Regions from separate parts of the Homo sapiens genome. Here region 2 is linked to region 1. Evidence: fine-mapped expression QTL. A gene starts in region 1. The other region holds a variant in brackets. All regions are shown on one strand. Distances are between the middles of the regions.

The links. PIP is the estimated chance that this variant, and not a neighbour inherited with it, causes the effect.
Region 2: its variant is fine-mapped to the expression of MLXIPL in lung (TOPMed, PIP above 0.99). The same link has a PIP of 0.9 or more in caudate, cerebellar hemisphere, cerebellum and putamen.

What each region holds. Positions count from the first base shown.
Region 1 is chr7:73,614,781-73,630,721 of GRCh38, reverse strand. MLXIPL (MLX interacting protein like) reads left to right here and starts at 6,200. Exons shown (of 17, transcript NM_032951.3): 1 at 6,200-6,522; 2 at 14,545-14,651. The coding sequence starts at 6,230.
Region 2 is chr7:73,643,774-73,658,630 of GRCh38, reverse strand. It overlaps a transcript of MLXIPL not described here. Among named protein-coding and RNA genes, the nearest start is that of VPS37D, 17 kb to the left of the region's middle. RefSeq lists silencers at 10,401-10,450, 10,491-10,560. The variant G/C (reference allele first, on the strand shown) is at 10,942.

The DNA of each region.
Region 1 (15,941 bases):
GAACATAGGTACTTGTGGAACAGGCTGGCATTCAATTGTCTGCGTTTGAATCCCAGTTCTCTTCTTATCATGTGACCTTCAGCAAAGGTTGTTTTCTTATCTGCAAAATGTGTTGAAAATCAAAGGGTAGGCCGGGCACAGTGGCACACGCCTGTAATCCCAGCACTTTGGGAGACCAAGGCAGGAGGATTGCTTGAGCTCAGGAGTTCAAGACCAGCCTGGCCAACATGGCAAAATCCCATCTCTACAAAAAATACAAAAATTAGGTGGGCATAGTGGCACACGCCTGTAGTCCCAACTACTCGGGAGGTTTAGGTGGGAGGATCACTTGAGCCCAGGAAGCAGAGCTTGCAATGACCCAAGATCATGCCACTGCATTCTGGCCTGGGTGACAGAGTGAGTGAGACTCCATCTCAAAAAAAAAAAAAAAAAAAAAGACAAGCTGGCCTGTAATCCCAGCACTTTGGGAGGCCGAGGCGGGCAGATAACGAGGTCAAGAGATCGAGACCTTCCTGGCTAACACAGTGAAACCCCGCCTGTACTAAAAGTACAAAAAATTAGCCGGGAGTGGTGGCGGGCGCCTGTAGTCCCAGCTACTTGGGAGGCTGAGGCAGGAGAATGGCGTGAACCCAAGAGGCGGAATTTGCAGTGAGCTGAGATCGTGCCACTGCACTCCTGCCTGGGAAACAGTGCAAGACTCCGTCTCATAAATAAATAAATAAATAAATAAATAAATAAATAAATAAAAATAATAAAAAAGACAAGCCAAGGGGCTGTTGTGAAGATCCTGCGGACCTGCTAGGTGGTAAGTGCTCCATAAAGGTTAGCTTTATATAGCTAATTCTCACCACAATCCGCCAGATCATTTCACCTCTCAGAGTCTCAGTCTCCCCATCTGTAAAATGGCAATGAAAATTCTAACACACCCACATATACACACAGTTGACAGGCTCACTAGTAAATGGAATAATTTATGAACGTGCCTTTTAGTTTTTAAGAGACAGGTTCTCACTCTGTCACCCAGGCTGGAGTACAGTGGCATGTTTATAGCTCACTGCAGCCTCCAACTCCTGAGCTCAAGCGATCCTCTCACCTCAGCCTCCCAAGTAGCTGGAACTACAAGACCACAAATAGCTAATTTTTTAATTTTTTGTAGAGACAGAGTCTTGCTATGCTGTCCAGGCTTGTCTCGAACCCCTGGGCTCAAGCAATCCTCCCCTTGGCCTCTCAAAGTGCTGGGATTACTGGCATGAGCCACCACGCCCAGCAGTGATTCTTGCTCTCAAGGAATTTGCCATCTAGTGGGGAGGAAAAGCACGTGCGTCATCACTGTGAATGCAAAGCTGAATGAAATTAGACTTATATTAGAACAAGGGTGGTGCGGCCAGGCACGGTGCCTCACTCCTGTAATTCCAGGACTTTGGGAGGCTGAAGAGGGTGGATCACGAGGTTAGGAGTTCAAGATTAACCTGACCAACATGGTGAAACCCCGTCTCTACAAAAATACAAAAATTAGCCAGGCGTGGTGGTGCACCCTTGTAATCCCAGCTCCTCAGGAGGCTGAGGCAGGAGAATCGCTTGAATCCGGGAGGTGGAGGTTGCAGTGAGCTGAGATCACGCCACTGCACTCCAGCCTGGGCGACAGAGCAAGACTTGGTCTCAAAAAAAAAAAAAGAAAAGAAAAGAACAAGGGTGGTGGGAACTCAGAAATAACCTGGAGAACTTGGGGAAGATGTCATAGGTGGGACTTCAAGGACAGGTGGGCTTTCCCAACAAGGAAGGGCAGGCTGGGTGAAGAGCCCTGAGGACCAAGACTGGAAGGCAGAGAGGATGTGACATCAGGTGGGATGGCTGGGGACAGCCAGGTATTCACACCACAGTTAGGATCTTGTCTTGCATCTCCATGGACCATGAACAAGACTTGTTTGTACAGAGGCTGTAAACTGCTGGCTATAGTAACAGAGGCTAGAGAAGCAGCAAGAGCGTGAGCCAGCTTACATGTACATGGCTGTGCTATTATCTGGGCAATGGTGCCCTGAACAGGGGGTGCGGCGCCTGTGGTCCCATTACAAGTGGCTCACACTTCTAATCCCAACACTTTGGGAGGCTGAAGTGGGAGGATCACTTTGGCCCAGGAGTTTGAGGCTGCAGTGAGCTATGATTGTGCCACTGCACTCCAGGCTGGGTGACACAGCGAGACCCTGTCTCTAAACACAGGAGAAATCAGAATCTGTGGACGTCCTTGCATTTATTGGACACTCTAGTGTTTGGATGTTTTGCATTGTGCAGTCAGGGTTTGTCTTTTCAGCGGTTAGGCTTCTAGAGGTGTTATTAAGCCCTGGAGGAGGGCAGAAATGAGATGCAGATGCCTGTTGAGGGGCAATTCATGGCTGGGGAAGGAGGGATGTTGGGTGAAGGAGAGAATTCACTCATAATCTTCCCACCCGCTCAGATCCAGCTCAGAGGAAAGTCCCTGAAACCGCAGGAGACAACTCTGATGTTTTCAGAGCATGGGGAGAGCACGGTGGGGTGATCTGGAGACACGGCCAGCAGAGACTTGGAGCCAAGATTCCTGGATCCCCAACAAATCACTGAATTCAGGCCAGGCACAGTGGCTCATGCCCGTAGTCTCAGCACTTTGGGAGGCCGTGGTGGAAGGGTCGCTTGAGCCCAGGTGCTCGAGACCAGCCTGGGGAATATAGTGAGACCTCATCTTTACAACAGCAAAAAGAAGAAGAAAGAAAGAAAGCACTGAGTTTGGCCCTCAATTTTACAGGTAGTGAGACAGATCGCCAGTAAGACAGAGAGACAGAGATCTCCCCAGTGTTACTCATGGAATTAGCAGCAGAGCAAGGATCAATTCCGGTCTTCACCTGAGCCAGGGTCCCCGGAGCCAGGAGGTCCCAAGCCAGAGGCGAGGGCGGAGCTGACACTTCCTATCCAACCTCCTCCACAGCACCCCACCCGCTCCTCTTAGTCTCATGCCCCTTTCTTCAAGCATCCCCCAAGTCTCCAGGTACCCAGTGTGGGGGTTCAGAGATGCTAGGACACAGTCTTGCCTCAATGGCCTACGGAGGAATAGGGGGAGAAGCCAGACAGGCATATAGGGGTAAGTAATGATCCTGTCAGCCTCTGTACCAAGGGCCTCAAAAGACGGTTAACTGCCACCTGAGAGCTGGCCACGGTGGCTCACGCCTGTAATACCAGCACTTTGGGAGGCTGAGGCAGGTGGATCACTTGTGGTCAGGAGTTCAAGACCAGCCTGGCCAACATGGTGAAACCCCATCTCTACTAAAAATACAAAAATTAGTCGGGCATGGTGTTACACGCCTGTAATCCCGGCTACTTGGGAGGCTGAGGCAGGAGAATCGCTTGAGCCCGGGAGGCGGAGGTTGCAGTGAGCTGAGATCATGCCACTGCACTCCAGTCTGGGTGACAGACTGAGACTGGCTCAAAAAAAAAAAAAAAAAAGAGGGCCACTTGGGGATGGCTCTCTGAAGCAGGGCAGAGCCCCTCCAAAGGAGGGAGAGTGGGGTGAGCATCAGAACCCCCTTTCCTAACCTGGCAGGGATGGGCAGAGAGAATGCACATCCTACAGAGGGCAGCAGGGAGGATGGAGCAGAACAGCTGGGGCTCCTGGGAATGTGATGCGAACATTTGGCAGAGACAGAAGATACCCGGCCAAGGGAGGTGGGTGGAAGGGCTGGCCTGTGAGCAGCCTTGGATAATCACTTTCCTCCCACAGCCAGTGGCTGGGGCCCTCAGGGCACTGCCATTGTGATCCTAGGTGCTGTGTGATCCTCCTGTGGGCTGGAAGAAAGTGCTGCATGTCAACCTTTTCCAAGGCTGCCACACATGGGAAACCACCTCCTCCGCTTTCCCTAACATGACCACACACAGGATACCTGTCAGAAAGCCAGCAGAGCTTAGCATGTGCCTACAACTCTTTCCTGTCCCCACCCACTAGGGACATCCTTGGGGGAAATCTGGAAATCTACTAGACCAGGCTTTGCTGCTGCCCCTCAGAGATGCTTGGGTGTGTTTTTGCTCTCCTGTGCCTCTGAACCCATCTTTGAGGCTGTTAGTTAAACGCTCCAGTGAGGTGTCAGGTGTGAATGCCTCAGTCTGGTTTCTGTCCTCAAGGTGAGAAAAGAGGCTTCAGAAGCAGAAAGGCCATGTACAGTGGCTCACACTTGTAATCCCAAAACTTTGGGAGGCTGAAGCAGATTTCATCTCTACAAAAAAAAAAAAATTAGCCAGGTTTGGTGGCATGAGCCTGTAGTCCCAGCTACTAGGGAGGCTGAGGTGGGAGGATCGCTTTGGCCCAGGAGTTTGAGGCTGCAGTGAGCTATGACCGTGCCTCTGCACTCCAGCCTGGGTGACAGAGCGAGACCCTGTCTCTAAAAATATATAAATAGGCTGGGCACGGTGGCGCATGCCTGGAATCCCAGCACTTTGAGAGGCTGAGGTGGGCAAATCGCTTTAAGGTCAGGAGTTTGAGACCAGCCTGGCCAGCATGGAGAAACCTCGTCTCTACTAAAAATACAAAAATTAGCTGGGCATGGTGGCGGGCACTTGTAATCCCGGCTACTCAGGAGGCTAAGGCAGGAGAATCGCTTGAACCAGGGAGGCAGAGGTTGCAGTGAGCCGAGATCGTGCCATTGCACTCCAGCCTGGGTGACAGAGTGAGCCTCCGTCTCAAAACAATAAATAAATAGAAGTATATAGATAAATAAAAATACAAAGAAGCAGGAACAAAAGCTGGACCTCAGTGTCAGTGAGAGAAGGGGCTCAGAGCTCCTGGGTAGATGCCTGCCTAGGGGATGTCCACCTTCCAGTGAGCCACCCATCCCTACCAGTAACAGTCCCTCGAGGCTCCCCTTGGGCCTCTCTGTGCAGGTGAAGTAATGATCACAATTTTTTTAATATATATTTTTTCTTAAGTATTTTATTTTGTTTTTGAAACAGGATTTCACTGTTGCCCAGGGTGGAGTGCAGTAGGGCGCGATCTCGGCTCACTGCAACCTCCACCTCTTGGGCTCATGTGATTCTTCCACCTCAGCCTCCCGAGTAGCTGGGATTATAAGCCAAGCACGCATCGTCACATCCGGTAATTTTTGTATTTTTAGTAGAGAAGGGGTTTCTCCATGTTAGCCAGGCTGGTTTCGAACTCCTGGCCTCAAGTGACCCACCCACCATGGCCTCCCAAAGTGCTAGGATTGAAGGCGAGAGCCACCGCGCCCGGCCACCGTGTTGGCCACCATGTTAACTAGAGGTGTTAGCAACCTCCTGTGGGCCAGGCCCTTCAGGGGCATTACCTTGGGCTTACCACATCAGGCCCCTGAGAGTTGGGGGCTTCTACCTATGTGGAGGACCCAGAAGAGCTAATATGGGGGGCGGGGGTTGGAGGTGAAGGGCAGGAGTTAGGTGAGGGGAGATGGTGATCTCTGGCCTCACAGGAGGGTGCCCCTGAAAGAACAAACCCCAGGTCCTGAGGCGCTTTCAGGCTCAGGTGTGATAGGGGACCCTTTTGTTGTGGAGACAGGGTCTCACTCTGTCATCCAGGCTGGAGTGCAGTGGCGCGATCTCCGCTCACTGCAGCCTCAACCTCTTGGTCTCAAGCGATTCTCCCACTTCAGCCTTCGGAGTAGCTAGGACTACATGCACACGCCACCATGCCTGGATAATTTTTGTATGTTTGGTAGAGACAGGGTTTTGCCATATTGTCGAACTCCTGGGCTCAAGGAATCCTCCCACCTCAGCCTCCCCAGTAGCTGGTATTACAGGCTTTCTCCACTATGTCCGGCTAATTTTTGCATTTTTTTGGTAGAGATGGGGGTCTTGCCATATTGCTCAGGCTGGTCTCGAACTCCTGACCTCAAGCCATCCTCCCGCCTTGGCCTCCTAAAGTGCTAGGATTACAGGCAAGAGCCCCTGGCGTCCGGCCTGACCTTTCTTAATATCCCTTTGGAGCAAAGTAGGGGCGGCTCTATCAGGACTCCAAGGAAAGACGGGAAGGGAGATGGGGCCAACCCGCCAGAGCTCCAGAGCACCGGGTTCTCACCTGGCGTAAGGATTATGCTAATACAAGCCCCGCCCCGTCCCAGGCCCCGCCCACCCGATCGGCCTATGGTGTGGGGGCGGGGCTATGTTAATGAGGCCCGGCTGGCCAAGAGCTGTTCCCCGCGCTGCGCGGAGCAGGGACCAGGCGGTTGCGGCGGCGACAGCCATGGCCGGCGCGCTGGCAGGTCTGGCCGCGGGCTTGCAGGTCCCGCGGGTCGCGCCCAGCCCAGACTCGGACTCGGACACAGACTCGGAGGACCCGAGTCTCCGGCGCAGCGCGGGCGGCTTGCTCCGCTCGCAGGTCATCCACAGCGGTCACTTCATGGTGTCGTCGCCGCACAGCGACTCGCTGCCCCGGCGGCGCGACCAGGAGGGGTCCGTGGGGCCCTCCGACTTCGGGCCGCGCAGTATCGACCCCACACTCACACGCCTCTTCGAGTGCTTGAGCCTGGCCTACAGGTGAGGGCGGTTCCGGGCCCTGACGGCCTTGGCTTCCAGGTGGGGATGGGGGGGGGGTCCGGGGCAGGACTGCGCGCTGGGGCCCTCAACACCCCACCCGAGCCCGGTCCTGCGGCTCCCGGAGGCTCCGATCACGCCCTGGACACCCCCTTTCTCCCAGCCCCGAGGTCCTCCTACAGCGGCCCAGCCCGCTGGCCCCTGACGGACCCACGCATTTCTGATTCCCATTCCTCCCCCATTCCCTCTTCCCCGAAGCGCAGACCGCCTGCGCCCCACCTCTACCTGGACCTCTGGTCCCCTCTCTCTGGTCCCAGCCCCTCCGTCCCTACAAAAATGCCAGGCGCCCCTGGTCCCTAGGCCACCCGCGCCCATCCCCACTCTCCACTCTGGAGCCACTCCACCCGACCCCCTGCAGGCCTCGGCCTTCTCCCCAGCAGCCCCGGCCCAAGCCCGCCCTATTCCTGGACCCTGAGATACTCCCAGCGCCCCTGATTGTCCCAGTTCATAACCAAAGTGGACTGGAACTGGCCCACTCTCACGTCCACCTCCCCGCAATTGCTGAGACACCTCTTCTTGATCTGCTACATTAAGGGTGGCGGGAGGAGGATGTCCCAGAAATGTCCAAGAGGCGCAGCTCGCAGAGGTTACGCCGGTGCCCGGGAGGCCTGGGTTCGCCTACCCACGTCGCCACACTAGGCTGAGCGCCCGTCGCTGCCTGGGACCCCCGCTTAGTGCCACCGAGAGCGCACAGGCCGCGCCCCGCTGCCGCTCCACGCCCCGCGTCCCAGAGGAGGGCGCGAACCCGAGGCCTGGCCCAGTGCCCTGGAGCAAAGTTCCCCGGAGTTGAGGGGCCAGTATAAATTATCAACCGAAAACCCGTAGGGGAGAAAGGGGGATCGGCCGGCCTTGATCTTTTCTCTGTGCAAATATTCCTCTTCCTCCGCGGCGCCTCCTCCCCTTCTGAGAACCGCTGGCTACAGATCGGCACCTGCCGCCCTGCGGGGGAGCAGGAGCTGGGGTGGGGACTGTGAGGGGAGTGTTGCCTGCCCCCAACCGCAGCCGCCCAGCTGCGACCCCATTGGCTGGAGGCGGAGTAACCTTGGCCCACAAGCTCTGGCCCCTGGCCCAGGTCATGTTGCAACCCGATCGGCCAGGGCGTCGGACCCGTGTGGAAAGTTCAAATTCCCGTCCCTTCTCCCTCCCTCCCCAAATGTCACGCGACTGCCTGGGACAGGGCATCTAAGGTCCTGGTACACCGGATGCCGGCACTCCTCCTCCTAAGGGTCTCCCATTTCCCACCCAACCCCAACTTTGGCTGCTCATTATATACTACACATCACTCTATTTGGGAGGGGGCCTCACTTCCAACCCTGACGATGGGTGACCAAAGAGGAGAGGTTCTGGGGAGCTGGCAAGGTAAGGGACAGAGCGCACCCCCAAAATTGCCCCCCCACCCAGAGGCTGACTCAAGGCTGATGTAACCCCAGTCAGAGATAGCTGGGGTAGAGAGGACTGTGTTTTCTTCCCAAATACCCAAATATTAATAGTAAATCTCTGGCTGGGCACAGTGGCTCCTGCCTGTAAGCCCAGCACTTTAGGAGGCCAAGGTTCTCATCCAAGGATTGCTTGAGCCCAGGAGTTGGAGACCAGCCTGGGCAACATACTGAGAACCTGTCTCTACCAAAAAAAAAAAAATTTTTTTTTTTTTTTGAGACAGAGTTTTGCTCTTGTTGCCCAGGCTGGAGTGCAGTGGTGCCATCTCAGCTCACTGCAACCTCTGCCTTCCGGGTTCAAGAGAATCTCCTGCCTCAGCCTCCTGAGTAGCTGGGATTACAGGCGCCCACCACCTCCAGCTAATTTTTTGTATTTTTAGTAGAGACGAGATTTCACCATGTTGGCCAGGCTGGTCTCAAACTCCTGACCTCAGGTGATCCACCTGCCTTGGCCTCCCCAAGTGCTGGGATTACAGGCATGAGCCAACATGCCTGGCCAAAAAAAATTTTCTTTAATCAGCCAGGTGTGATGGCACATTCCTAGTACCAGCTACTGGGGAGTCTGAGGTGGGAGGATCACTTCAGCCCAGGAGGTTGAGGCTCCAGTAAGACATGATGGTGCCACTGCACTCCACCCTGGGTGATAGAGTGAGACCTTGTTGGAAGGAAGGGAGGGAGGGAGGGAGGGAGATGGGGGGAGGAAGGAAGGAAGGGAGGGAGGGAGATGGAAGGAGGGAGGGAGATAAAGGAGGGAGGGAGATGGAGAGAGGGAGATGGAGAGAGGGAGATGGAGGGAGGGAGGGAGATAGAGGGAAATGGAGGGAGGGAGATGGAGGAGGGAGGGAGAAGGAGGGAGGGAGGGAGATGGAGGGAGGGAGACGGAGGGAGATGGAGGGAGGGAGAGGGAAGGAGATGGAGGGAGGGAGGAAGGGAGAGAGGGAGGAAGGGAGGGAGGGAGGGAGATGGAGGGAGGGAGGGAGCTGGAGAGAGATGGAGGGAGGGAGGGAGATGGAGGGAGGGAGGGAGATGGAGGGAGATGGAGGGTTGGCTCGGTACCAGGAGAGCTTCTAGATTTCCCCATTTGGTAGTGGAAAAGCCCTGAGGCTTGAACTGGGACAGTGTTTTCATCCTCAAAGACCCCCAGTTCCAGGGGTCCCCTGGAGGGGAGCAGATTACAGGAGCTGAGTGTCCCAGGGGAGTGACTATATGGGAAGAGACAGTAAGGCAGAGAGTTCAGAAGGTGGTGGGAAGAACAGCGAGCTTGACCAGGGACCCACCTGAATCAGGGACCAGCCTGACCCAGAGACCAGCCTGCAGAGGCCTGGCAAGGTTTCACCCTCTGCAGGTTAGCGTGGGCAGAGGGAGGATCGAGGAGGCCGTCTTCCATGGCTCCGTGGGTGGAAGCCCCAGGGAGGTAGTTTCTGGAAGCTTCAAGGAAGCACTTGTTCATGGTCAGAGCTGGCTAGCTTTAGGAAGAGTGGCCTTGAGGGTGCAGGGGAGCAAACAGGACCTGGTTAGGGGGCAATCTAAAAGGAATTCCTGAAAGGTGGGAGGTGGGCAGCTGAACTTGGGGTTTTCTCAACCCCCTCTCTAAGTCTCAGAGTTTTCTTCTCCTTCTTATTATTTATTTATTTATTTATTTATTTATTTATTTTTGGAGACAGAGTCTCACTCTGTTGCCCAGGCTGGAGTGCGCTGGCATGATCTCAGCTCACTGTAATCTCCGTCTCCTGAGTTCAAGCGATTCTCATGTCTCAGCCTCCAGAGTAGCTGAGGTAACAGGCATGTGCCACCATCCCCAGCTAATTTTTAATTTTCAGTAGAGACGAGGTTTCACCATGTTGGCCAGGCTGGTCTCGAACCCCTGACCTCAAGTGATCTGCCCACCTCAGCCTCCCAAAGTGCTGGGATTACAGGTATGAGCCATCGTGTCCTGCCTTTTTCTTTCTTTTCTTTTTTTTTTCTGAGACGGAGTCTCACTCTGTCGCCCAGGCTGGAGTGCAGTGGCGCAATCTCAGCTCACTGCAACCTCCACCCAACGGGTTCAAGCAATTCTCTGCCTCAGCCTCCTGAGTAGCTGGGATTACAGGCGCCTGCCACCACATCCGGCTTTTTTTTTTTTTTTTTTTCAGTACAGGTGGAGTTTCACCATGTTGGCCAGGCTGGTCTTGAACTCCTGACCTTGTGATCCACCCGTCTCGGCCTCCCAAAGTGCTGGGATTACAGGTGTGAGCTACTGGGCCCAGCTCTTTTCTTCTTTTAATAGTTTTTGTTGTTGTTGTTGTTGTTTTTTGTTTGTTGTTGAGACAGAGTCTCGCTGTGACACTCAAGCTGGAGTACAATGGCATGATCTCGGCTCACTGCAACATCCGCCTCCTGGGTTCAAGCGATTCTCCTGCCTCAGCCTCCCGAGTAGTTGGGATTACAGGCACGCACCACCATGCCCGGCTAATTTTTGTATTTTTAGTAGAGACGGGGTTTCTCCATGTTAGCCAGGCTGGTCTTGAACTCCTGACCTCAGGTGATTCGCCTGCCTTGGCCTCCCAAAGTGCTGGGATTATAGACGTGAGCCACCGCGCCTGGCCCTATTAATAGTTTTAAATAGAGATAAGGTCTCACTGTATTGCCCAGCTGGTCTTGAACTCCTGGGTTCAAGCGATCCTCTCCCCTCAGCCTCCCAAAGTGCTTAGGTTACAGGCCCACCACTGCTCCTCATCAGACTTTTCTATTGGTCATAACAAGTTTTTGTTTTGTTTTGTTTTGTTTGTTTGTTTTTTGAGACGGAGTCTTGCTCTGTCGCCCAGGCTGGAGTGCAGTGGCGCGATCTTGGCTCACTGCAAGCTCTGCCTCCCGGGTTCACACCATTCTCCTGCCTCAGCCTCCCGAGTAGCTGGGACCACAGGCACCTGCCACCACGCCCAGCTAATTTTTTGTATTTTTAGTAGAGACCGGGTTTCACTGCGTTAGCCAGGATGGTCTCGATCTCCTGACCTTGTGATCCACCCATCTCGGCCTCCCAAAGTGCTGGGATTACAGGCTTGAGCCACTGCGCCCAACCAGAATTTACTTGTTTTTTATGAGTCGGGTTCCCACTCTGTTGCCCAGGCTGGAGTGCAGTGGTGTGATCACAGCTCACTTCAGCCTTGAACTCCTGGGCTCAAGCGATCTTCCCACTGCAGCCTCCTGAGTAGCTGAGACTAGAGGTTTGCACCACCATGCCCAGCTAACTTTTTTTTTTTTTTTTTTGAGATGGAGTCGCTCTCTGTCGCCCAGGCTGGAGTGCAGTGGCACAATCTCGGCTCACTGCAAACTCCGCCTCCCGGGTTAACGCCATTCTCCTGGCTTAGCCTCCCAAGTAGCTGGGACTACAGACGCCTGCCACCACGTCCGGCTAATTTTTGTATTTTTAGTAGAGACGGGGTTTCACGTTGTTAGCCAGGCTGATCTCGAACTCCTGACCTCAGGTGATCCACCCACCTCGGCCTCCCAAAGTGCTGGGATTACAGGCATGAGCCACTGTGCCTGGCCCCAGCTAACTTTTTAACTGTAGAAACAGGGTTGCACTATGTTGCCCATGCTGATCTCAAACTCCTGGCCTCCTACAGTCCTCCTGCCTCGGCCTTCCAAAGTGCTGGGATTACAGGTGTGAGCCATCCCCAGCCAGTCATAAAAAGTTCTTGAACCCTAGCGTTACGCTCTTCCTCCAGGCTGAGTCTCTTCTCTCACAGCCCCAAATCCTTTTCTTCCTCCTGGGCTTGGATATTGTCACTGTCACATCTGCTCTAACCCTGCCTGGGCCATGAACGTCATAACCTTAGCATGGAAGCGGGAGAGAAGGCAGGCAGGTCAAGGGTGCGACACGGGGTGATCAGAATGGGCTGGGAGGTTGCTGGGATACAGACAGGGACAACAGACTCAGGAGTCCCCCACCAGGTGCCACAGAAGAAGCTGGCCCAGGAGGTAGCAGAGTCTCCCCCCACCCCCACCTCCATGTCTCCCTACCAAACAGATGGTGTTTATCTAATTCTCAGAGGGAGGGGCCCAGCCAGTGGCCCAGAGAGCTGGGCTGTGTATCTTATTTGGGTAATGAGGCCTGTTGTCCCTGGTGGGGAGGGGGCAGTCCCCCACCCCCACCCCAAAGCAAACACAGGAACTTGGAGACCAGGGAGGAGAGAGGGCCCAATGACCAATGCACTCAAGTAGGGAGAGGCTGCGGAGTCAGACTGGCACCCACCCACATTTCACCCCCAGAATGTAGGAAAGACCCCTGGAGGAAGCAGGTATGGTTTTCTGAAAGACTAAGCCTTGGGGGCCAGGTGCGGTGGCTCACGCCTGTCATCCCAGCACTTTGGGAGGCCAAGGTGGGTGGATCACTTGAGGTCAGGAGTTCGAGACCAGCCTGGCCAACATGATGAAGCCCCGTCTCTACTAAAAATACAAAAGTGAGCTGGGTGTCATGGCATATGCCTGTAATCCCAGCTACTCAGGGGGCTGAGGCACGAGAATCATTTGAACCTGGGAGACGGAAGTTGCAGTGAGCCAAGATCATGCCACTGCACTCCAACCTGGGTGGCAGAATGAGGCTCCATCTCAAAAAAATGAAAAAATGGCTAAGACTTGGGGCCTCAGCCTTCCCATCTGAGATCTGAGTAAGGGATGCAAAAGGCGGGCTAGAGGGGACTGGTACACAACCCTGGCTTGTGGATGGAGACGAGAGAGGGAGGGAGAGACTAGCAGGGGGTCTAAGACCCTGAATGTCTTGGCCTCCTGGCTCAGCTTCCTGGAGGCAGAAGACTTGGCCTGTGCCTAGCAGGACCCTCACCAGTGTAAGCTCTTCCATCCAGTGGATTTTTTTTTCCTTCAAGACAGGATCTTGCTCTGTTGCCCAGGCTGGAGTGCAGTGGCGTGATCATAGCTCACTGTAGCCTCAAACTCCCGGGCTGAAGAAATCCTCTGACCTCGCCTCCCTAGTAGCTAGGACTATAGGTGCATGCCACCACACCCGGCTAATTTTAAAATTATTTTGTAGAGACAGGGTCTTGCTATGTTGCCCAGGCTGGTCTCAAACTCCTTGGCTCAAGCGATCCTCCCGCCTTGGCCTCCCAAAGTGTTGGGATTACAACCGTGAGCTACCGCGCCCAGCCCATCCTGTGGATTTGATGGACAGCTAGGGTTAGAGTGAGGGTGCTCTGTCTCCATGAATACCATTTGCTCATCCTAGCGGCCTTCCTTTGGGATCTGTTGGTTCATTGTCTTCTGTGCAGCCCTGAGAAGAGCACACCTTCTCGCTGAGTCCAGGTTGCCACCCTGGGATTCTGGGCATGGCAGACACCAAAAGGACTGTACCATGAAGGCAGTGACTGCCACTCTCTATAAAGAGGCACCCTCGGCTGGGCATGGTGGCTCACATCTGTAATCCCAGCACTTTGGGAGGCCAAGGTGGGCAGATCACTTGAGGTCAGGAGTTTGAGACCAGCCTGGGCAACATGGTGAAACCCCGTCTTTACTAAAAATACCAAAAAAATTAGCTGAACGTGGTGGCGCACAACTGTAATCCCAGCTACTCGGGAGGCCGAGGCACGAGAATTGTTTGAATCCAAGAGATGGAGGTTGTGGTGAGCTGAGATCTCACCACTGCACTCCAGCCTGGATGACAGACTGAGACTCCGTCTCAAAACCAAAAGCAAACCAAAAAAAACCAAACCAAACCAAAACAAAACACAGAGGCTCCCTCTCTACCAGGCAAACCATGGCCATCCCCTTTGCCTCTCCTGGGCCTAAGGAGGCCTGAGTGACCTCGGACCTGCCCCTTTCCTCCCTGACTCTCAGGAAGGTCTTTTTTTTTTTTTTTTTTTTTTGAGACGGAGTTTCACTCTTGTTGCCCAGGCTGGAGTACAACGGTGTGATCTCAGCTCACTGCAACCTCCGCCTCCCAGGCTCAAGCAATTCTCCTGCTTCAGCCTCCTGAGTAGCTGGGATTACAGGTGTGCGCCACCACAGCCAGCTAATTTTGTATTTTTAGTAGAGACAGGGCTTCAGTATGTTGGACTAGGCTGGTCTCGAACTCCTGACCTCAGGCGATCCACCCGCCTTGGCCCCGCAAAGTTCTGGGATGACAGGCGTGAGCTACTGCACCCAGCCCAGGAAGGTCATTTCTTATTCTCTTAAATGAGAAATGGGCCTGAGCACTGTCCCCAGCCAGCCTCCAAGACACACCTGTGAGGCCACTGGACATTGTTGCTTCCAGGGCCGAGCTGATCCACAGGTTTCAGCGTGGCTTTTGTTCTGCAGTAGACTGACAAACAGGTCTCCCCAGGGAACACAGGGGCCGCTGGTGGGAGTCTGGAAGGGGATTTTGAAGGTCTGACTCTCTGGATAGGAATTTCAGGCAGGTTGGGTTGGGGGGCCAGATTTGGAGGGGCCCCTCAAATGCCAACCATAGATGGATGCCTAGTGCATGGGGAATATGGGGACCAGCCTCTGTGGCAGCACTGCATCTCCCTAACCCTACTCCTCTCCCCTTTGACAGTGGCAAGCTGGTGTCTCCCAAGTGGAAGAATTTCAAAGGCCTCAAGCTGCTCTGCAGAGACAAGATCCGCCTGAACAACGCCATCTGGAGGGCCTGGTATATCCAGTGTGAGTGGCTACCACCAGCCTCCCAAGCCGGGAGGGACTGCCCCCTCCAACCCTCCTGCCAGAGGGTTCTACATGGTGGCTGCCCAGGAAAATCCCCGGGGTCCTCAAGGCCAGCACTAGCAGAGTTCTGCCAACCTTTTTTTTTTTTTTTTTTTTTTGAGACACAGTCTTGCTCTGTTGCCCAAGCTGGAGTGCAGTGGTGCCATCTCGGCTCACTGCAACTTCCGCCTCCCAGGTTCAAGCCATTCTCCTGCCTCAGCCTCCCAAGTAGCTGGGACTGCAGGCACCCACCACCACTCCCAGCTAATTTTTGTATTTTTAGTAGAGACGGTTTCACCATGTTGGCCAGGCTGGTCTTGAACTCCTGACCTCAAGTGATCTGCCCACCTTGGCCTCCCAAAGTGCTGGGATTACAGGCGTGAGCCACCACGCCTGACCCTGACAGCCTTTTAGGGGGAGACCAGGCCCCCAGCACCAGGACTCCTGAATAGCTCCTGACCTCCAGCGGGTCTCGGGGAATAGGTCCCAAAGGGTGTTTCCACTGTGAAGCTGGGCACAGCAGAGGTCACCCCTCAGTAGCACTAGGGTAGGCTGAGATTTGAGGTACAGTTCAAAGCCCATTTTGCATCCCATTAGCATAGTTGGGTGCCTTGAATGCGAGGGTAAAAAGGGCCATTAGACACTAGCGGGGCCAACTGCATCACTTTGTAAATGGAGAAACTGAGGATCCCGCATGGGTCTCCACCAGCCTTTCATTGAAGTCCTTCCTGAATATCCAGTAGGTGCCCACCATGGCCAATTGGGCAGAGGGGATCCAGAGAGGCCATGCCATCTCGTGGAAGGAACTCTGGACTTAGAGTTGCCCAGAGCTAGTTCCTCCACCCCGTCTCTGCCCCTTGCTGGCTGTGTGACTTCAGGCTAGTTGCCTAGCCTCTCTGAACTTGTTTCCTTATCTATAAAAACGAGGCCACGGTGGCTCACACCTGTAATCCCAGCACTTTGGAAGGCCAAGGCGGGCAGATCACAAGGTCAGGAGATCGAGACCATCCTGCCTAACGCAGTGAAACCCGGTGTCTACTAAAAATACAAAAAATTAGCTGGGCGTGGTGGCGGGTGCCTGTAGTCCCAGCTACTCGGCAGGCTGAGGCAGGAGAATGGCGTGAACCTGGGAGGCGGAGCTTGCAGTGAGCTGAGATCGCGCCGCTGCACTCCAGCCTGGGCGACAGGGCGAGACTCCGTCTCAAAAAAAAAAAAAAAAAAAGGGCAAAACAAAAAACGAGGCCAATAGTC
Region 2 (14,857 bases), 28 kb before region 1:
GAGCCACCGCCCCCGGCCAGTGACTGGCTGCTTTTATTCAGCATAATGTTTTCAAGATTCATTCACAGTGCAGCATTTATCAGTACCTAATTCCTTTTGATTTTTTTATTGTGGTAAAATATATGTAACATAAAATTTATCCTTTAAACCACTTAAATGAACAGCTCAGTAGCATTAAATATATTCACATTGTTGTGCAACCGTCACCATCATCCACTTCCAGAATTTTCCTCACCTTCCCAAACTGAAACTCCATCCCCATGAAACACTCACTCCTCATTCCTCTTCCCCACAGCCCCTGGCACGCACCATTCTACTTTCTGTCTCTATGAATTTGATTACTCCAGATACCGCATATAAATGGACTCATATAGTATTTTTTCTTTTGTGACTGGATTATTTCATTCAGTATAATGTTTTCTTTCTTTCTTTTTTTTTTTTTTTGAGACGGAGTCTCGCTCTGTCGTCCAGACTGGAGTCCAGTGGCACCATCACAACTCACTGCAGCTTCAAACTCCTGGGCTCAAGCAATCTGCCTGCCTCAGTTTCCTGAGTCACTGGACTACAGACATGCTACCGTGCCTGGCTAATTTTTTTTTTTTTTTTTTTTGAGATGGAGTCTTGCTCTGTCGCCCAGGCTGGAATGCAGTGGTGTGATCTTGGCTCACTGCAACCTCTGCCTCCCGGGTTCAAGTGATTCTCCTGCCTCAGCCTTCCGAGTAGCTGGGATTACAGCTGCGTGCCACCACACCTGGCCAAGTTTTTTTTTTTTGTTTTTTTTTTTTTTGTATTTTTAGTAGAAACAGAGTTTCACCAGTTGGCCAGGCTGGTCTCGAACTCCTGACCTCAAGTGATCCACCCACCTCAGCCTCTCAAAGTGCTGGGATTGCAGGCATGAACCATCATGCCCGGCCCCTGGCTGATTTTTTGTTTTATTTATTTATTTGTTTATTTATTTATTTTGAGACAGAGTATCGTTTTGTTGCCCAGGCCGGAGTTCAGTGGCATGATCTTGGCTCACTGCAACCTCCTCCTCCCAGGTTCAAGCGATTCTCTTGCCTCAGCCTCCCAAGTGGCTGAGATTACAGTCATGCACCACCATGCCCAGCTAATTTTTGTATTTTTAGTAGAGGCGGGGTTTCAAGATGTTGGTCAGGCTGGTCTCGAACTCCTGACCTCAAGTGGTCCTCCTGCTTCGGCCTCCCAAAGTGCTGGGATTACAGGCCTGAACCATTGCACCTGGCCAACTTCATTCCTTTTTAAGGCTGAATAATATTTTGTGTATGTATGTTGTGCTTTTTATGGCTGAATAATATTCTATTATAATGAACGTACCATAAGTTGTTTACCCACTCATCAGTTGGTGAACATTGGGGTTTTTCCACTTTGGGGCTATTATGCATAATGCTATGAACATTCGCATATAAATCTTTGTGTGACATATGTTTTCGTTTCTCTTGGGTATATACTGAGGAGTGAATATATGATAACTCTATGTTTAGCTTTTTGAGAAAGGGCCAGACTGCTTTCCAAAGCAGCTGTACCTCTTTACATTTACACGAGCAAAGCACAACGGTTCCAATTTCTTTATTTTATTTTATTTCATTTTATTTTATTTTATTTTATTTTATTTTATATTTTTGAGACAGGGTGTCTCTCTGTCCCCCAGGCTGGAGTGTAGTGGTGTGTTCATGGCTCACTGCAGCCTCAACCTTCTGGGCTCAAGTGATCCTCCCGCCTCAGCCTTCTGAGTAGCTGGGACTACAGGTGCGCACCACCATGCCTGACTAATTTTTTACATTTTTTTTTTTTGGTAGAAATGGGGGTCTCACTATGTTGCCTAGGCTAGTCTCAAACTCCTGGCCTCAAGTGGTCCTCCCACGTCAGCCTCCCAAAGGGCTGGGATTACAGGTTGAGCCACCACACCCAGCCAAGGGTTCCAATTTCTTTGCCAACACTAGCTTCCCGTCTTTTTTAATTATAGCCACCCTAGTGGGTGTGAAGTGGCATCTCATAATTTGATTTGTGTTTCTCTGATGACTAATGATGTCAAACATCTTTTCATGTACGGTACTTATCGGCCATTTGTAGATCTTCTCTGTAAAAATGTGTATTAAGACCCTTTGCCTCTGTTTTTATTTTTCCTTTTTCAACTTTTTTTTTTTTTGAGATGGAGTCTGGCTCTGTTACCCAGGCTGGAGTGCAGTGGCACCATCTTTGCTCACTGCAACCTCTGCCTCCCAGGTTCAAGCAATTCTACTGCCTCAGCCTCCCGAGTAGCTGGGATTACAGGCGCCCGCCACCACACCCAGTTAATGTTTGTATTTTTACTAGGGACGGGGTTTTCACCCTGTTAGTCAGGCTGGTCTCGAACTCCTGACCTCAAGTGATCCACCCACCTTGGCCTCCCAAAGTGCTGGGATTACAGGCATGAGCCACTGCGCCCGGCCCCAACTTTTCTTTTTTCCTTTTTGGAGACGGAGTTTTGCTCTGTCTGTCACCAGGCTGGAGTGCAGTGGCAGGATCTTGGCTCACTGCAACCTCCGCCTCCCTGGTTCAAGCAACTCTCCTGCCTCAGCCTCCCGAGTAACTGGGACTACAGGTGCACTCCGCCACGCCAGCTAATTTTTTTTTTAATTATTTTTTATTTTTAGTAGAGATGGGGTTTCACCATGTTGGTCTTGAACTCCTGACCTCAAGTGATCCACCCACTCAAAAGTGCTAGGATTATAGGCATGAGCCACCACACCCGGCCTCAAATTTTCTTTTAGAATCAGAAGGTACATGTGCAGATTTTTTATGAGGTATATGGCGTGGTGCTGAGGTTTGAAGTATGACTGAACTCAGGTACTGAGCATAGTGCCCAAAAGGTAGTTTTTCTGCCCTTGTCTCCCTCTCTCTCCTCTCTATAGTCCCCAGTGTCTATTGTTACCATCTGATATGTTTTGGCTGTGTCCCCACCCAAATCTCATCTTGAATTCGCACCTGTTGTGGGAGAGACCTGGTGGGAGGTAATTGAATCATGGGGGCAGGTCTTTCTCCTGCTGTTCTTGTGATAGTGAATAAGTCCCAGGGGATCCAATGGTTTTAAAAATAGCAGTTTCCCTGAAAAGCTCTCTTTGCCTGCTGCCATCCATGTAAGACGTGACTTGCTCCTCCTCGCCTTCCACCATGATTGTGAGGCCTCCCCAGCTACGTGGAACTGTAAGTCCATTAAACCCTTTTTCCTGTATAAATTACCCAGTCTTGGGTATGTCTTTATCAGCTGTGTGAAAATGGACTAATACACCATCTTTGTGTTCATATATACCCAATGTTTAGCTCCCACTTATAAGTGAGAACATGCAGTATTTTATTTTCTATTTCTGTGCTAGTTTGCTTAGGATAATGGCCTCCAACTGCATTCATGTTGCTGCAAAGGACATGGTTTTTCTTCCTTTTTATGGCTGTGTAGTAGTCCATGGTGTATCCATACCACATTTTCTTTATCCAAACCACCATTGATGGGCACCTGGTTTAATTACATGTTTTTGTTATTGTGAATAGCATTGCAATGATCAGACAATTTGCCCATGTTTTGATTGGGCTATCTTTATATTGTAAGAGTTCTTTATATTTCTGGGAAACTAGTCTTTTATCAGATATATGATTTGCAATTTAGTTCCCCTCTGTAGGTTATCTTTATTCTCTTGATGATGTCTTTTGAAGCACAAACGTTTTTTATTCTATTTTGGTGAAGTCCATTTTACCTATTTTTTCTTCTCTTGCTTGTGCTTTAGTGTCCTATCTAAAGAACAATTTTCTAAATCAAAGTCACAAAGATTTATTTATTTATTTATTTTTTGAGGCAGAGTCTTGCTGTATTGCCCGGGCTGGAGTGTAGCGGTGTGATCATGGCTTCCTGCACCCTCCACCTCCCGGGTTCTAGTGGTTCTCCTGCCTCAGCCTCCTGAGTAGCTGGAATTACAGGTGCCTGCCACCATGCCTGACTGATTTTTGTATTTTTAGTAGAGACGGGGCCAGGCTGGTCTCGAACTCCTGATCTCAGATGATCCACCCACCTCAGCCTCCCAAAATGCTGGGATTACAGGTGTAAACCACTGCACCTGGCCCACAAAGATTTACTTTCTTTTTTTTTTTTTTTTTTTTGAGACAGAGTCTCGCTCTGTCACCCAGGCTGGAGTGGCGATATCTTGACTCACTACAACCTCTTCCTCCGGCTTTCAAGTGACCCTCATGCCTTAGCCTCCCAAGTAGCTGAAACCACAGGTGTGTGCCACCATGCCTGGCTGATTTTTTTGTATTTTTAGTAGAGATGGGGTCTTTTTATGTTGCCCAGGCTGCTCTCAAATTCCTGACCTCAAGTGAGGGAGGTCTGCCTGGGCCTCCCATAGTGCTGGGATTACAATTACAATTTCTTTTTTTTTTTTCTTTTTTTTTTTTTTTTTGGTGAGACGGAGATTTACTCTTGTTGCCCAGGCTGGAGTGCAATGGCGCGATCTCGGCTCACCGCATCCTCCACCTCCCAGGTTCAAGCGATTCTCCTGCCTCAGCCTCCCGAGCAGCTGGGATTACAGGCATGTGTCACCACACCTGGCTAATTTTGTATTTTTAGTAGAGACGGGGTTTCACTGTGTTGCCCAGGCTGATCTTGAACTCCTGACCTCAGGTGATCTGCCCTCCTCGGCCTCCCAAAGTGCGGGGATTACAGGCATGAGCCACTGCGCCCAGCTGATTACAATAACTTCTAATCTGCTTTGTCTCACTACAGGTTACCCTACATTTTCTTGAATTTTACGTAAATGAATCATATAGTATATACTTTCTGGGGGGCTTTTTTACTCACAATTATTATTATTATTATTTCAAGACAGGTTCTCACTCTGTCACCAAGGCAGGAATACAGTGGCACAATTACGACTCACGGCAGCCTCGACCTCCTGGGCTGAAGCAATCCTCCCGCCTAAGCCTCTCGAGTAGCTGGGACTACTGCCATGCACCACCATGCCTGGCTGATTTATTTATTTTTATTTTTTATAAAGGTATAATCCCACTATGTTGCCCAGGCTGGTCTTGAACTCCCGGGCTCAAGCTGTCCTCCCATGTCAGCCTCCCAAAGTGCTGGGATTACAGGTGTGAGCCACTGTGGCTGGCCCATTCCCCAATCATATGCTGCATTTCCACACCTCTTCTGCCTTAGCTCAAGACGTAGTTTCACCTAGAATGCTCTTCCTCCCGGCTGGGCGGGAGAGAACCAGGAGTTTGAGACCAGCCTGGCCAACATGGTGAAACTCCATCTCTACTAAAAATACTAAAATTAGCCGGGTGGTGGTACACACCTGTAATCCCAGCCACTCGGGAGGCTGAGGCAGGAGAATCGCTTGAACCTGGGAGGTGGAGATTGCAGTGAGCCGAGATTGCGCCACTGTACTCCAGCCTGGGTGACAGAGCAAGACTCCATCTAAAAAAGAAAAAAAAAAGAAAACAGAAAAGAAAAAAGAGAAAGGAATACTATTTCTCCCAATGTCTGATCCTAAAGCTGAAGGTTGTTGTAGAACTGACTCATCCTTCTCATCCTAGCCTCCACTTCCCCTCATGCACAGACTGAATCAGTCCTTTCCCGGCACGCTCCCTCACAGCTCTGATGCCAGCCTGCCCTGTACTGGAGTTCTTAGAGACTAACCTGTCCCCACTGTTAGACCAGAGGTCCTCTGAGGGCAGGGATGGCATTTATGTCATTTCTCCAGTTCCAGCTTCCAGCTCAGGATCTGTCACACGGCAGGTACAGAGAGCCAGGACACCAGGGCTCAAATTCCAGCTCCGCCGCTTACGGCCAGTATGAACCTCAAATGACCCAACCTCCCTGTGCCTCTGTCTCTTCTTCTGTAAAGTGGGGGAAACACACTCACTTCATCTGGTTGTGGAAGGGATTAAATGATTAACCCACATAAACAGCTTAGCAGGTGTGGGCGGGACCCTGGCAAGTAGTAAGTGTTTGGTAAATGTTAGTCAGAAGTGATACTGGGGGGCCGGGCGCGGTGGCTCACGCCTGTAATCCCAGTACTTTGAGAGGCCGAGGCAGGCGGATCATGAGGTCAGGAGATCGAGACCATCCTGGCTAACACGGTGAAACCCCGTCTCCACTAAAAATACAAAAAATTAGCCAGGTGTGGTGGCGGGCGCCTGTAGTCCCAGCCACTCAGGAGGCTGAGGCAGGAGAATGGCGTGAACCCGGGAGGCAGAGCTTGCAGTGAGCCAAGATTGAGCCACTGCACTCCAGCCTGGGAGACACAGCGAGACTCCATCTCAAAAAAAAAAAAAGAAGTGGTACTGGGGTCAGGCATGGTGGCTCATGCCTGTAATCCCAACACTTTGGGAGGCCGAGGCACACGGATCACCTGAGGTCAGGAGTTCAAGACCAGCCTGGCCAACATGGAGAAACTCCATCTCTACTAAAAATACAAAAATTAGCCAGGCGTGGTGGTGGGTGCCTGTAATCCCAGCTACTTGGGAGGCTGAGGCAGGAGAATCGCTTAAACCTGGGAGGTGGAGGTTGCAGTGAGCCGAGATCACTGCACTCCAGCCTGGGCGACACAAGTGAAACTCTGTCTCAAAAAAAAAAAAAAAGTGATAGTAACTTGTTGGGTCGAAGAGAGACTGCCCTAGGTATAGGTACTCTTCATATGAAGGGGAAGATACTTTATATTGATCTTCACAGCCAGGCACAGTGGCTCACACCTGTAATCCCAGCACTTTGGGAGGCCACGGCAGGAGGATTGCTTGAACCCAGGAGTTCAAGGCCAGCCTGGACAACATGGTGAGACCCTGTCTCTACAAAAACAAACAAAAATTAGCTGGGCGTGTTGGAGCCTACTAGTGATCCCAGCTACTCAAGAGGCTAAAGCAGAATGATCACTTTAGCCCAGGAGTTCAAGGTTGCAGTGAGCCATGGTGGACCCACTGCACTCCAGCCCAGGCTAAGAAGTGAAACTCTCTTTCTCAGAAAAAAAGAGGAGACCCTCCATGCCTCTCCACCTCCATTAAAGTCAGGGAGCACTCCACCAGAGGCCCCCTAATCCACCTCCCTTCCTTTCCAGCATCAAAGTAACCATGAAAATCTTCCTCCTTCAGAAAGCCCTCCAGGATTGCACTGCCTCTAGGAACTTCTTCTTTCTGCCTCTTCTCTTTGATGCCCTGTGACCACAGCTGAGTCCTGCACCCTACTTCCTATCTTCCCCCAGCTCTCCTCTTCCTCTGCAAGGGATACAAACAAACATCTCTGGACCACTTTCAGGTAGACCTGAGGTTTTTCACAGGGTGTAGCTGGAGCTAAGAGCATTCATGAGAGAGAGCATCTTTTATATTTTTATTTTTTAGAGACAGGGTCTCACTATATTGTTGCCTAGGCTGGTCTCAAACTCCTGGTGTCTAAGCGATCCTCCCACCTCAGTATCCCAAAGCGCTGGGGTTAGAGGCATGAACCACCATGCCCCACTGGAGAACATCTTATTCATACCTCCCTGCCTCTCCTGTTTTACATATGGGTAGGGTCAACCCAGGATGCCCAGTTAAATTTGAGTTTTAGATAAGCATTATGAATAATCTCTTAGTATAAGTATGCCACAAATATGGCATGAGACATACTTATACTAAAAAAAGCCATTGTGTATCTGAAATTCAAATTTAATGGGGCATCCTGGATTTGTATTTGCTAAATCCACCAACCCTATGTATGGGGAAACTGAGGCCCTGGGAGATGGAGTATCAGTATCATGCCCAGTTGCAGAGCCAGTCAATGTGGTGGTGGCTCAAGCCCCACTTCCTTTACACACACACACACACACACACACGCTGACTCTGGGTCCTGGCGCTGGCCATGAACAGGTGTCTGTCCAAGGTAGCAGACTGAAGCCTACTAGTAGGAGGTCACGTGACAAGAAACTCATGCAAGACAGGAAACAGTGGGCAGAGAAGGCCAAGCTGACCCACCAGGACGTATGAGGCAGGTGGAAGAAGCAGGAGGTGTCTTCATCTGCTTCCTTCTCAAGATGCACCCTTCCACCACCACCGCCCACCCTCAGGCAGAGTGAATTCCAAATGGGGTGTGGGGCTGGGCGCAGTGGCTCACACCTGTAATCCCAGCACTTTGGGAGGCCGAGGCAGGCAGATCACTTGAGGCCAGGAGTTTGAGACCAGCCTGGCCAACATGGCAAAACCCCATCTTTACTAAAAGTACAAAAAAACTGGCCGGGCGTGGTGGCATGCACCTGTAGTCCCAACTATTTGAGAGGCTGAGGCAGGAGAATCACTTGAACCCAGGAGGCGGAGGTTGCGGTGAGCTGAGATTGCACCATTGCACTCCAGCCTGGGTGACAGAGCGAGACCTTGTCTCAAAACAAATAAATGGTGTGTGGGCAGAATCTGATCAACTCAGGGTCTCTTCTGGGCTCGGGCTCAGCCTCATCCTCCGGCATGCCCCCGGCCTTCCCCCTGCGCTCTACCTCCTGCCATCACCAGGGGACTCTGAGGGGCATTATTGGCAGGATCCCTTCTGCCTCTGCTGCCCCCCGCTAGCCGTAGAAGGAAGGAAGCCCGTGGGGCTGGGAGGAAGCTGCCTCATTGCTGGGTAGGGTGGCTGTGAAAGCCCTTTCTTCTTTCCATCCCACACTGCCCGCTCCTGGCCGAGCGGTGGCCAGGGGGATCCTTCCTTCTACCCCACACGGCCCCTTGAAGCTGGCAGGCAAGCTGAGGTCCTGAATGCCCCCTTCCCAGGTGGTGCCTACTCCACAGGACCTCTGAGGACTTGGAGGCATCCATCCTGGACTTTGAAACTGATACCACCGCTGGCCTATCCCGCTCTCTCACTGGGCTGCTACGCCAAGGGTGTTTAAGGATGTTTGTGGAGTAAATGTAAGAGTCTGGGCCAGGCCCAGTGGCTTGCACCTGTAATCCCAGCACTTTGGGAGGTCGAGGTGGGAGGATTGCTTAAGACCAGGAGATAGAGACCAACGTGGGCAACATAGTGAGAACCCATTGCTTAAAAAAAAAGAGTTGAGAGGACACAGCACTAAGAGCAAGAGAGGGGAAGTCAGTGGGCCCCGGAAGGCAGGAAGGGCCTCAGGGAGGGGTGAGGAATGGGGGCTCAGGGAGGGGAGTGGGGTTTAGGGAGGGGATGTGATGTCAAGGGCAGGGAGGGTGGGGGCTTGAGGGGGGACTCAGAGGGAGCATGGGATGAAGCTGGTCAAAGAGGGAATGAATGGGGCTCAGTGAGCCAGATGAGAGAGAGACAGGAGATAGACAGTGAGAGAGAGAGAGAGACAGAGACAGAGGGAGAGACAGAGAGGGAGAGGAGAGGAAGAGAGAGGGGGGGAAAGGAGGGGGAGAGACAGAGTGAGAGACAGAGAGAAGGAAAGAGAGAAGAGAAAGGGAGAGAGAAGGGGGAGAGGGAGTGAGAGAGGGAAAGAGAGAAAGGCAAGGGGGGAGAATGAGAGAGAGAGAGAGGAGAGAGAGGGAGAGAGAGAAAGAGGAGGGGGTAGAGACAGAGAGAAAGTGAGAGAGAGAGAGGAGAGAGAGAGGGAGAGAGACAGAGTGAGAGAGAGAGGAGAGAGAGGGAAAGGGGGGAGAATGAGAGAGAAAGAGAGAGGGGGGAGAAAGAGAGGAGGGGGGAGAGAGAGAAAGTCAGAAAGTGAGAGAGAGAGGAGAGAGAGGGAGAGAGACAGAGTGAGAGACAGAGAGAGGAGAGAGATGGAAAGAGAGGGAGGAGAATGAGAGAGAGAGGGGGGAGAGAGGGAGAGAGAAAAAGAGAAGAGAAAGGAGAGAGAGAGGAGGGGATAGAGAGAAAGTAAAGGAGAGAGAGAGGAGGGTGGGAGAGAGAGAGGAGAGCCAGGGTCAGAGGGAAAGAGAGAAGACAGAGGGAGAGAGACGGGGCAGGGAGAGACAAGGGACAGAGAGACAGTGTGAGAGAGAGAGAGAAAGAAAGAGGAGGGGGAGAATGAGAGAGAGAGAGGAGAGAGGGGGGAGAGTGAAAAAGGAGGGGAATAGAGAGAGAAAGAGAAAGTGAGAGAGATAGAGGAGAGAGACAGAGTGAGAGACAGAGAGAGAGGAGAGAGAGAGGGAAAGAGAGGAAGGGGGAGAATGAGAGAGATGAGAGAAGGGGGAGAGAGAAGAGGGGGTAGAGAGAAAGTGAGGGGAGAGGGAGAGAGGAGCCTGGAGGAGAGAAGAGAGAGGGAGAGGAAAGGGAGGGGGAGAGAGAGAAAGAGAGAAAGCGGGGAGAGAAGAGAGTAAGAGTGAGGGATGAGAGTGAGAGAGAGTGCTGGGGGGACTCAGGGACTAGGAGGAGGTTCAAAGCCGGGCTGGGGCTCTGGGAGGAGCCCGAGGCGGTCCCAGCGTCTTTCTCTGCCCACCTGGGGTGGCCCCACACCTGCGGCTCCTCCCTCCCCGAGCCCAGCCCGCGGCTGGGGGCCGGGCACCGAGCCCCCGGGGAAAGTAGAGGGGGTTAAAGGTGAGCGGGCACGAGCCGGCGGCAGACGGGGATTGGCAGGCGCCCGAGCCCAGGGCCCGGGCCATGGCTGCCCCACAGGCCTCTGAGCGGCTGAGCGGCTGCCGCCCACGTGCTAAGGAGAGAAGGAGGCACCAGATCAAGGGGCAAAGGACACCTCGGAGCGGGGCGGGGGTGCCCGCGTCCACACCCGCTGCTAAAAGCCGGGCCCGCGGCGCAGCGCACGGAGCCCTCTGCCGCCCGCGCGGAGAAGGCGCCGGGCGCGGTCCGGCGGTCCCAAGCATCCCCGCAGCGCCCCCGCCGCCCGCCGCCCGCCCCTGGCCGCGCCGCGCCCCTCTGCAGGTCGAGCGGATTCCAGGTGAGGGCGTGGAGCCCCCGCGTCATCAGGTGGGTGCAGGGGCCTCACCCAAGGGGAATTGGATCCGCCTCTGTGCTGGGCCTCA[G/C]TTTCCCCTCTGCCCATAGAGGCGCGCGTCTCTGGCTCAGCTGGGTTGAAGGGGTTCATAGGCTTATGTGGCCTCCTCGCTCAGCCTCAGCTGCCAGGAGGAAGGAGGCAAACTCGTACCCCAGGGAGGACTCCGGATCAGGAATCCAAGAATTCATCCTGCTAGAAGGTGAAGTGCACACGGGTCCTGGAAGCCCCGTGTCTCCCACTGGCTGGACTGGGCTGGGCTTCCATCCTGGTCTGGGAGGTTCTCCCAGGAGCTGAGAGGGGGCCCAGGGAGTCAGGAGGGAGGGCCTTCCTCCCTCTGGCTCTCCCTGCCCTGGGCAGGTGACATGCCAGTGGAGAAACCCTGTCCAGGTGGGCCCTGGGATGAGGAGGACCAAAACTGCCCCTGGCTGGGACAGAAAGAAGGGAGATGGCAGGGTGGGGTATGTGGATTCTGGCCCCTAGGCTTCTAGCCAACAGGTGGGGGCCACAGAAGTGGTGGCCGGCACTCCTGCTGCTCTGCCCAGGGGGGAAAGCCAGGGCTTCCTCCCAGCCACCCTGCCCCCACCTCTGGGCTGGGTTTGGGAGCTTTGGGTTCTTGTCTGTGTCTGACTGTGTGACCTTGGGCGCACGACTTTCCGTCTCTGGGCCTGGCTCTCCCTCCGTGACATGGGAAGGTTTACTGTTCCTGGGCCACTCGTGTGGAGATGGGGACAGAGTAAAACGGAACACCAGGTTGCTTTGGGGGACAGTGTGGCCCACTCCAACCAAGTCCCTCTGGGCCTTCACAAGGGGGATGGTGTTACAGGGTCAGCTGAGTCAGGAAGTCAGGGGGACCAGGGATCTATGAGAGCTGAGCTGGTCCCCACTTTGCCCAAGAACTTATCTTACACTCAGCAACTCCCCTGCCCCATGTCCTGCCCAGGCCCTCAGATGCAGGAGAAGTCTCAGAATACAGGTCTGGGAATCTCAGGTCCGCCCCAGGGAAGCTCAGCTCCTCAGCCTAGGGTAGCTTCTGGGAGAGGAGGAAGATTCTGTAATACCAGAAGAGGTCTGAGCTGTAGTAGCCAGGAGTTTCCCCATCTTGAGAAGATGACCCATCTCACTTCTCCCTAATTGCCCCCTAAGGACACAGTCTGCTGGCTGAGCCAGGCCAGGGCTCAGTTTAGAATCAGGGTTGGGGCTCAGGCTGGGGTTGGGACTCAGCCTGGGGACCACATGGGAGGGCAGCTCAGAGCCAGGGTCCAGGAAGCATCCGCCTGGTGTCTTGGAATCCTGTGATTGAAATCCTCTGGCCGATATAGGGGTGGCACTGGTGGAGATGATGTTTGTCAGCTGAAGTGGAGGGCTGGCATATGAGCTTCTGCAGGCTGTAGAGTGGGATGGAAGAGTGGACTGGAAGCGTGGAAGTGGGAGAGGTCATGTCTCCGAGGCTCCTGCAGCCACACTTGCCCAGAGTCTCTAGTGCCTTCAGGCAATGGCCCTCCCTGGGTACCCTCCCCGGGGCTGTCTTTGGCCCTGCTGCCAGCCCTGTGGTGGCTAAATGCAAGCTTAGACATGTGTTGGGTTTGTCAGGGGCTGGGAGAGGCCATCATTAGTGCAGTCCTCACTCTCTGGTTAGGGCCAAAGAAAAAGTTTTGGCTACAGATGTGGGGCAGAGGAGGGAAGAGAGAGGGGACGTGCAGGCTTAGGATTGCTGTTCAGATAGGAGAAGAGGAAGAGGAACTGGGGTTTGCTATGCATTTACTGCAAGCCAGGCACTGCACAAGCTTTTCTGGCACTGTTTCCTTCTTCCTGATAACCAGAGAAGGAAAAGATCTCCATTTTACAGATGAGGAAACAGGCTCAGAGAGGTCAAGGCTCTGGCTCAAGGTCACACAGCCTGGGAACGGCAAAGCTGATATTCAAACCCAAGCATCTTGGCTCCAAAGCCCTGGTTTCTGTTCCCACTACTGTCAGTGACCTTGGCAAGCCCTGTCCTCCTCCGGGCTTCACTCTGCACACCTGTAACCTGGGGTTAAATGGGCTCGCCTGGACTGTTGAGCAGAGCTGGGAGGAGGTCTGGAAGCAACATGGGTGGTGCATTCTCTGCATTCAGGGAGAAACACACAAGAGGGGATTACATTGGCTGACCCCCAACCTCCCAGGTCAGCTCATGGGTGTCCATGTGTCCTGCGCCCACCTCACCCACCTCCACCCCCTCCCCACCCATCTTTCTCACTCCTGAAACTTAGGGGCAAGGTGGCTCTGTCTCTCCTCTTTGAAGTTAGCTAAGCTGACCTTGGAGAAGGGGGCCCCCAACAAGGGAAGAGTGAACAGAATATTCCCAGGGTAGGTCCTGGCACTGATAAATAAGAGACAGACAACTACTGCCCTAGGGCCAGAGGCAGTGGCTCAAGCCTGTAATCTCAACACTTTGGGAGGCCAAAGTGGGAGGGTTGCTTGAGGCCAGGAGTTCAAGACCAGCCTGGACAGCATAGAAAGATCTGTGTCTCTGCAACAAATTAAAAAATTAGCCAGGTGTGGTGGCACAGGCATATAGTCATAGCTACTCAGGAGGCTGACACAGGACGATCACTTGAGACCAGGAGTTTGAGGCTGCAGTGAGCTATGATGTCACCACTGCATTCCAGCCTGGGCAACAGAGCAAGAACCCCTCTCTTAAAAAAAAAAAAATGCTCTACCCAGAATCCCAGGCCACCCCCTGCTAGCTGGCTTGGGTAGTCACAAAAGTTCTTGTCCCATATTCAGCCCCATTAGCAGTGTGACTTTGGGCGAGAGATATGCTTCCTGGGATCCACTTTCTATCTCAGTCCAGGGGCCTGATGCCCTGATGGGGCCGGCATGGGGCCAGTTATCCAGCAGGGGAGAGGCCAGGAGATTCTGGGCAGAGCAGATGACTGTCACCTGCTGCAACAGTCTGAGAAGCGTTTTCCATCCCTGAGTCCCCTGGAGGAGATTGTCGCCCTATCTTCTTTGTCCTACAGCTCCTGGTTCTCTGACATTGTAATCAGAGATGTCGACCAGGAAGGAAGGAAAGAAGAAAGGGCGGGCTGGGGGGAGGAAAAGAGGGACAGAAGAAGAAAACCCACATTTACCAGGTACCACTGGCTCTCACTTACATATTTCATTTCATCTTTGCAACAACTGCACAATAACATCACATAGTCATAGCCATTTTAAAGATGAGAAAACCGGCAAGGCACAGTGGCTCGTGTCTGCAATTTTAACACTTTGGGAGGCTGAGACGGGTGGATCGTCTGAGGTCAGGAGTTCAAGACCAGCCTGGCCAACATGGCAAAACCCTGTCTCTACTAAAAATACAAAAATTAGCCGGGCATGTTGGCGGGCACCTGTAATCCCAGCTACTTGGGAGGTCCTAAGGCAGGAGAATCACTTGAAGCCTGGGGGTGGAGGTTGCAGTGAGCCGAGATCAAGCCACTTCACTCCAGCCTGGGAGAAAGAGCTAAACTCAGCTTCAAAAAAAAAAAAGACAAAACCAGTCCTCAGCCAGGTGCAGTGGCTCACATCTGTAATATCAGAGCTTTGGGAGGCCAAGGCAGGAGGATTGCTTGAGACCAGAAGTTTGGGACCAGTCTGGGCAGCCTAGTGAGACCCTGTCTCTACAAAAAAATTAGCCAAGCATGGTGGCACAAGCTTATAGTCCCAGCCACTCAGGAGGCTGAGGCAGAAGGATTGCTTGAGCCCAGGACTTTGAGACCAGCCTGGGCAACATAGTGAGACCCCCCATCTATATAAAAATTTTTAAAAATTAGCCAGGGGTGGTGATGCACACCTGTAGTCCCAGCTACTTGGGAGGCTGAGGCGGGAGGATCACTTGAGCCAGGAGTTCAAAGTTGCAGTGAGCCATGGTGGTGCCGCTGCACTGAAGTCTAAGCAAAAGAGCAACACCTTGCCTCCAAAAAATAAAA